Linked DNA regions of Homo sapiens. The protein of the gene in region 2 purifies or fractionates together with the protein of the main gene of each other region. This does not show direct contact. Each region holds a gene or a part of one and is shown on either strand. Other genes may lie near its edges. The genes, in order: IQCB1 and RUBCN.

Region 1 (3,822 bases), about 76 Mb from region 2:
ATTTTAATACCCTTGCTCACTAAAAAGTAGAACTGTAGACAAGAAAAAAAAAAGAGAATTTAGAAGACTTCAACAACTCTACTAACCAAATTGACCTAATTAACACTTATAGAACATTACATACAACTGCAGAGTTCACATTTGGGTATACAAGTAGTCCTAGCTTTTGCATGGCACCATATTAAATAAAACCTGTGCATATCAAAACCTTTGCATGGTTCTGACATGCACGAGTTTCAGTTAAGATGGAACTGTGCAAAACAAAGGTTTCTTTTTCTTTTCTTTTTTTTTTTTTTTTCAGATGGAGTTTTGCTCTTGTTGCCCAGGCTGGAGAGCAATGGCACTATCTTGGCTCACTGCAACCTCTGCCTCCTGGGTTCAAGTGATCCTCCTGCCTCAGCCTCCCAAGTAGCTGGGATTATAGGCATGTGCCACCATGCCCGGCTAATTTTGCATTTTTAGTAGAGACAGGGTTTCTCCATGTTGGTCAGGCTGGTCTCAAACTCCCAACCTCAGGTGATCCGCCCGCCTCGGCCTCCCAAACTGCTGGGATTACAGGTGTGAGCCACTGCGCCCAGCCCACAAAAGTTTCTTTTAATGAACATTCACAAAGATAAAACATATGCGGAGGGCCATAAAACAAGTCTGAAAAAATTCCAAAGGATTGAAATGATATAGAGAATGTTATCTGACCAAAACATAATTAAATTAGAAATTGATAACAATAAAGTATCTAGTAGATCTTCAAATATTTGGAAATTAAGCAACACACTTCTAAATCCCTGGGTCAAAAAAAGAGCACATGTATAGCATCTAGCATAATGCAACCAAGAAATACTTGAAAAGACCCCTATGTTTGGGTTGAATATTTTGACTGGAGAAGATATGAGAGATCAAATAGGAAGTTCACCTTTATTCTTCACTACTGGAGCTACTTAGAAAAGCCCTAGCCCTAGAGAACATACTTTCCTCTACTGTTAATTTAAGTAAAAAGTATGTTTAGAAAGATGTTATGGAAATAATTGTCTATGGGTGCTGCCCAACAAGTAAAGTAGCAAGGCAGATCCTTCAAAAAATCAAATGGCAAGCTTCAGTCAGCATTAAAAATTTTTCAAACATAGAGATGATTTTTGGAAGGTTGTAACTTTGAAAATGTTTAAATTCACTACTTTAATTGTACTTTCAGCCAAATATTGCACATTTAAAAAATAACAGAACAGCTTCTTAAGAATTAAACTGATTTAGCTACAAAAGACTAAATAAACACATACCTTAGCTGCATTGATAAAACATGTTTGTAATTGTCTCCCCAAAACTAGAAAATTTTCTGCAGCTGATGGAAGTAATTCATTGTAAAATTCCTCTGCATCTTCTCCTGGCTCCAAGCCCACACAGCAATGGCTGAAATAAGAGCACAAGTTCGTGTTAATTAGAAGTTTATGTTGAATGCTCAAGCTTCTAGAGACACTGTGCCTTATTGAGAATTTTTAGTATGCTTCTTTTGTTACCAAGACAATAAAGAATTTTTGTTGAAAAATTAGTCTAACAACTTTCTAGAAAAGTAAACAGTGGTATGGACCATGCTTGTACTTAGGTCTGGGATTTATGTATCCTAAAAACCTACATATCAGCTCATTCAGCAAATAAAAGACACTTGGCTCACAATAAAGAGAAGCTAAGTTTTCAGTGAATTGGCTATAATCATTCTCAAAGCTATAGGATACCTTGAGAGTTTAATTTATGAAAAGCATTTGTGTTAACTAATACATTTTAGACACCTAATAGCTGAAAAATGCCCAAGTAGGATTTGTTTGCAAGGGATACATAAGGAAACCAAACACTAATTTCATACCAATTTTACCTTCCAATAGATCTACTTTTTGCAAAATACTCATTTGCATATTCCTTATATCAGAAGGACAAACGGCAAAACCTAACTCTAGTAGGAACACTTTACAATATACATTAGAGGAGAGAAAGTCACTTAGAGAAAAAGGTCCTCTTAAAATTGTACATAAAAGTCATTTCCTGTACATAAGTCAGAAGTCCCAATAATAAAAGGTTTTTCTGTAAACTAACATTCAAAAGAGCCTCAAACCCAAGAATGGTCTCTATGTGTGTACTCTAATGAACAAAAACTGCTGTTTGAGTCTTTTCAACAAAATGTATGGACACTAATAAGCAATAACAACTATGTATTGAGCATGTTAAAAATCTAAGTAATCAATGGCAGACTGGATAAAGAAAATGGTATATTTCTTTGGGGTGGTACATATACACCATGGAATACTATGCAGCCATAAAAAAGAACAAGATCATGTCCTTTGCAGCAACATGGATGGAGCTGAAGGCCATTAACCTAAGTGAACTAACACAAGAACAGAAAGCCAAACACTGCATATTCTCACTTATAAGTGAGAACAAACATTGAGTATGCAATTTACCTATAAAACAAACCTCCACATGTACCCCTGAACCTAAAATAAAAGTTAAAAAAAAACCTAAGTGGATAATATTTACATGTATCACTTTTTGTTGTTGTTGTTGTTTATTTGCACCTGGGTTCCTAAAGTTAATGGGCTAATGCTCACATGTATCAGCTTTTCTTTTCTCTTTGGTTCCTAAAGTTAATTACTTAAGAGTATCTTTTTTGATTGAGAAGATTAACAAATGAAATTATGTTTATTTGTGCATTCAGAAACATGGGAATTTCTTAAGTCTTGAATTCCACCCGAGAGCCTGGCTTAATCAATATCATCATAAACTAGCATATCGAATCAAAACAAAAACATAAGGCTTTATTTACTTAAGAAAATCAATCTTGAAAATTAAAGTATGAAAAAGAATATCACATATATTTTTCAACTGTTCTTTGTAACTGTGTGCTTTAAATTTGGCCTTTACCAAGTAACACAGTAGGATTAAGCAGCTTAGAAATCTAGCATCCAAGACAAACCCTTTCAGTGGGAATAGCTTATTAAATTCAAATGGCTTATTTAGGAAAAACAAAAAAAGAAGGCTAGGATCCAGTTAGTAAATACACACTTTCACTTATTAATCAGGAAGTAGCTTAGGCACTAAGAACATCTGGTTTATTTTACTACCTCCTTTAAAAAATGTTTATTTCTCTTCTATTAATTTCTAGCATGGCAGTAGATCAGTAAATTCTACTTCTAAATTTTATTGACAGTATTTGGGTTGCTTAATGAAATACACAGTTGATAGCTACATTGATATAGTGAAATAAAATGTTTCTTTATCAGTTCTCCTATAGTACTTGCTTGCATACTTTCATTTTAGCACTGATTTCATTCTGCTTTGTATCATATACTTACATGACTGTCACCCAATCTCTATTTTAAGTTTCTCAGGTACAGAGCCAGTGCCTTAATTTCTTCACTTCTTTAAAAATTCCTTAATCAATAAAAAGTATATTAGGCACTTGGAATTCAGTGGTGAGAAAAAAAATGATCACCATCTTCATTAAGCTTGTGGAGGAAAATTTTAGACAGTCAAATAATCTGAAGTAAAATTATGAATAATAACATATAATATGAAGGAAAAGTACAACCAAAACCTACAACAGGAGGTTGCCAATGCTTGTTAGGCAGATAAATAAAAAGCAAATGTTGAAAATCAGAATCAACTACTACATCCCTCAAGAACAGCTGACTTACTGCTTTATTTTACCTTAATATCTGTGTAAGCTGGGAAATTGTAGTCCAACCACCCTGGATTCGAGAATAATCTTGACTGAGGACCAAGAGGCAATATTGAATGAGATCATAACAATATATATCTTGTTTGATTTTCTTCAACTCT
Region 2 (3,822 bases):
CTCCCAAAGTGCTGGGATTACAGATCTTTTGTATTTTAATAAGCAGGAAGAAAATGTCACCCAGTAGAAAGAAAATAGACATCATAGTCATTTAAACTGAATTTGAATTTGAATCTTAGCTGCTCACAAACTAGATGCACATTCTATTTTTTTTTTTTTTTTTGAGACTGAGTTTTGCTCTGTCGCCCAGGCTGGAGGGCAGTGGTGCGATCTCAGCTCACTGCAACCTCCGCCTCCCGGGTTCAAATGATTCTCCTGCCTCAGCCTCCCAAGTAGCTGAGATTACAGGTGCCTGACACCATGCCCAGCTAATTTTTGTATTTTTAGTAGAAATGGGGTTTCACCATGTTGGCCAGGCTGGTCTCGAACTCTTGACTTCAAGTGATCTGCCTGCCTCAGCCTCCCAAAGTGCTGGGATTACAGGCGTGAGCCACCTCACCTGGCCTAGATCCACATTCTTGACCAAGCCATTTAAACTCTTGAAGCTTCAATTCCCTCACTGTAAAATGGAGACAACAATTGCTTCACAGAGGAGGGTGTAACTGACAATCTAGGGGAAGCATTATCATAGAGCAGAGAATAATATTCTCTTTTCTCTGCCATTTTCCCCCTGTGAACTTCCATTGCATAAATCTAATAAATCCAACAAAATCAGGAAGGGTACCTAGAATAAAGCCTTCTTACCCATTCTGCTTAAAAAGAAAATTCTGCCAAAAATTGTAAAGGATTGGACAGTCTGCAGCATAATGAAGTTTGGTTACAGTGTTCCACATCCAAACAGTATCTCCACTGCGTTTAAACCAAGGTCAGGTCTGCAGGTAAGCATGGATTGCAAGGCCCTGTTGATGCTGTTGGTCCTCTCACTGAAGTAGGAAAGCTAGGAAGGACTTCCTCAAATACTGGATATGACTTTTATATGGTAAAGACTTAAATCTGCTTGACGGAATGGAAGAAACTGTCAAGGTGTTACTGCGGCACAATAAGGCTGATTTCATGAGACATATAAGAAAGACAATCTTATTACTTCACCAGGCTCATGTTATACTGTCTAGGTAGCAGAATGCTTTACAAACAAGGTAAAGCAGGCACACAACACCACTTTAATAGCAATGGCACGGGAGGAAAGACAAAGTGTTTCAGTCTTTTCAGTTTCAGGTAGATGATTTAAAGGTAAAAGGCACGCTGGGCACAGCGGTACATGCCTGTAGTCCCAGCTCCTCAGGAGGCTGAAGCAGGAGGACTGCCTGACCTATGCTGGGCACAGTGGCACATGCCTGTAGTCCCAGCTCCTCAGGAGGCTGAAGCAGGAGGACTGCCTGACCTATGCTGGGCACAGTGGCACATGCCTGTAGTCCCAGCTCCTCAGGAGGCTGAGGCAGGAGGATTGCCTGACTTCAAAAGTTCAAGTCTAGCCTGGGCAACAATGTGAGAACCCTTCAAAAAACAAAAACAGCTGTGGGGAGAGGAAAAGCTTCAGGCTTAGAGTCCTTGCAGTCCCCTCCTGGGTTCTGACAACAGCAGCTTCCCCAAAAGCTTCAAGGGTATGTTTCTGTAATTTTTGTACTAAAAATCGAACTAGCAATTGCTAGTTTCCTTTAAAATCATGTGATCATCCTGCTTTGCTACTAGCTCTATGTAAACTGTTAACTCCTAGAATAATCAAACAGGGACGGGAAAGAAAGAAAACAGGAAATATAAAAACGTGAAAAAGTGAAAATGAATAGGAGAAATGCGAAGAAAGTGGCACTTCCAATGACAACAGTTCCACTAGCATCTGCCCATCTGTAAGAGGGATGACCACAACGTTAATGTCTTCATTCCTCAAACAAATATTCACTGAACACCAACTATATGTCAGGCACTGGGCTAGGCACTGGTGCTTAAAGAAGCGTTATAGCGGTTAAAGAGGAAGAGTCCCATCTGTCAGAGAATTCAGAACGTAATGGGGGAAATGGACACTTACATAACCATGCTATGAAGGGAGATGTCAGATGTGCTCTAACAGAGAGGGGTGCCTTCTAAAGGAGCGTCATTTAAGGGACGACTAAGAGCTCTCCAGGCAAAGAGGGAGGTATTGCAGTGAGTGTAGAAAAGCAAGAATGAGAATGGCAAGAAAGATGTGAGAGTGGGTGAGTGTGCCATGGTTTTGTAATTGGAAACTTCATTAAGTACTAACAGAAAGATTCAGGCCGGGCGCGGTGGCTCACGCCTGTAATCCCAGCACTTTGGGAGGCCGAGGCGGGCGGATCACGAGGTCAGGAGAATGGCGTGAACCCGGGAGGCGGAGCTTGCAGTGAGCCGAGATTGTGCTACTGCTTTCTGGCCTGGGCAACAGAGCGAGACTCCGTCTCAAAAAAAAAAAAAAAAGATTCAATACCAGGGTGAGGAGTTTTGACATGGAAAATATTCTGTTTTCAATGGGAAAACCACTGAACATTGCTTTTGTTTTTTTTGTTTTGTTTTGTTTGTTGTTTTTGAGACGGAGTCTCGCTCTGTCGCCCAGCCTGGAGTGCAGCGGCGCGATCTCGGCTCACTACAAGTTCTGCCTCCCGGGCTCACGCCATTCTCCTGCCTCAGCCTCCCAAGTAGCTGGGACTACAGGCGCCCGCCACCACGCCCGGCTAATTTTTTTGTATTTTTAGTAGAGACGGGGTTTCACCATGTTGGCCAGGATGGTCTCGATCTCCTGACCTTGTGATCCGCCTGCCTCGGCCTCCCAAAGTGCTGGGATTACAGGCGTGAGCCACCGCGTCCGGCCCCTGCTTTTGTTTTGTTCTGTTTTTTGAGACAGTCTCGATCTGTTGCCCAGGGTGGAGTGCAGTGGCATCACCTGGGCTCACTGCAACCTCCGCCTACCAGGTTCAAGCAATTCTCCTGCCTAGCCTCCTGAGTAGCTGGGATTACAGGGGTGCACAACCACATCTGGCTAATTTTTTGTATTTTTAGTAGAGACAGCATTTTGCCATGTTGACCAGGCTGGTCTTGAGCTCCTGACCTCAGGTGACCCACCCACCTCAGCCTCCCAAAGTGCTGGGATGACAGGCATGAGCCACCAAATCCAGCCAATCACTGAACATCCCTGAGTAAAATATTATAGTAGCTTTGTTTCTGAAAAATTAAACTAGTAGCAGGGTGAGCTGGGATGACAGGCATGAGCCACCAAATCCAGCCAATCACTGAACATCCCTGAGTAAAATATTATAGTAGCTTTGTTTCTGAAAAATTAAACTAGTAGCAGGGTGAGGCTATCTGGAATTGGGACTAAATTCAGGTTGGAAGATTAGTTAAGAAGCTACTGAGGTAATCCCCAAGAAGAGATTATATGGGTCTACAGTGAATAAACTTTATATCTGCCCAGAATTTGTCCCTTTATTTTGGTAAGAGAACCCTGATTTTCCACTGAGGAACCACCTCTCTACTACTTACTCTGGTCCATGAGGTTCCAAGATCTCACCCTCCCTTAGGATCCAGGGTTGGGCACATAACTTAGGCCTGACTAAGCAGAATAGCCCATACCCCGACCACAAGAACAGAAACATAACTCAAGTCAGTCCAAAAAGAGTCAGCCCCGGGATTTTTGCTTTTGCTGGAGCTGCTGGGACTGCATCTTTCTTGTTGCTGGTATTGCTAAGCTTGGAGTTGCTATGGTAACCTGTAGAATAGTCTACCTGAGAATGAAAACAACACATCTGGAAGCAGAGCCCAGAGACAGAGACAAATTCTTAATTTGAACACCCATATTTGGGCATTTCTGAAGCAACAGTACACCCTAGATTTTTTTTTTTTTTTTTTGAGAGAGAAAGTGGGACCAGGGGGCCATCA

Evidence for each region.
Region 1: the proteins of RUBCN (region 2) and IQCB1 purify together in Homo sapiens (affinity purification with mass spectrometry; one large-scale study listed by BioGRID and IntAct). This does not show direct contact.

The regions. Positions count from the first base shown.
Region 1 is NC_000003.12:121,824,780-121,828,601, forward strand, and holds part of IQCB1 (IQ calmodulin-binding motif-containing protein 1), read right to left. Parts: coding exon 3,691-3,822; intron 1,402-3,690; coding exon 1,272-1,401; intron 1-1,271. UniProt on the Homo sapiens protein: Involved in ciliogenesis. The function in an early step in cilia formation depends on its association with CEP290/NPHP6.
Region 2 is NC_000003.12:197,726,795-197,730,616, forward strand, and holds part of RUBCN (run domain Beclin-1-interacting and cysteine-rich domain-containing protein), read right to left. Parts: intron 1-3,822.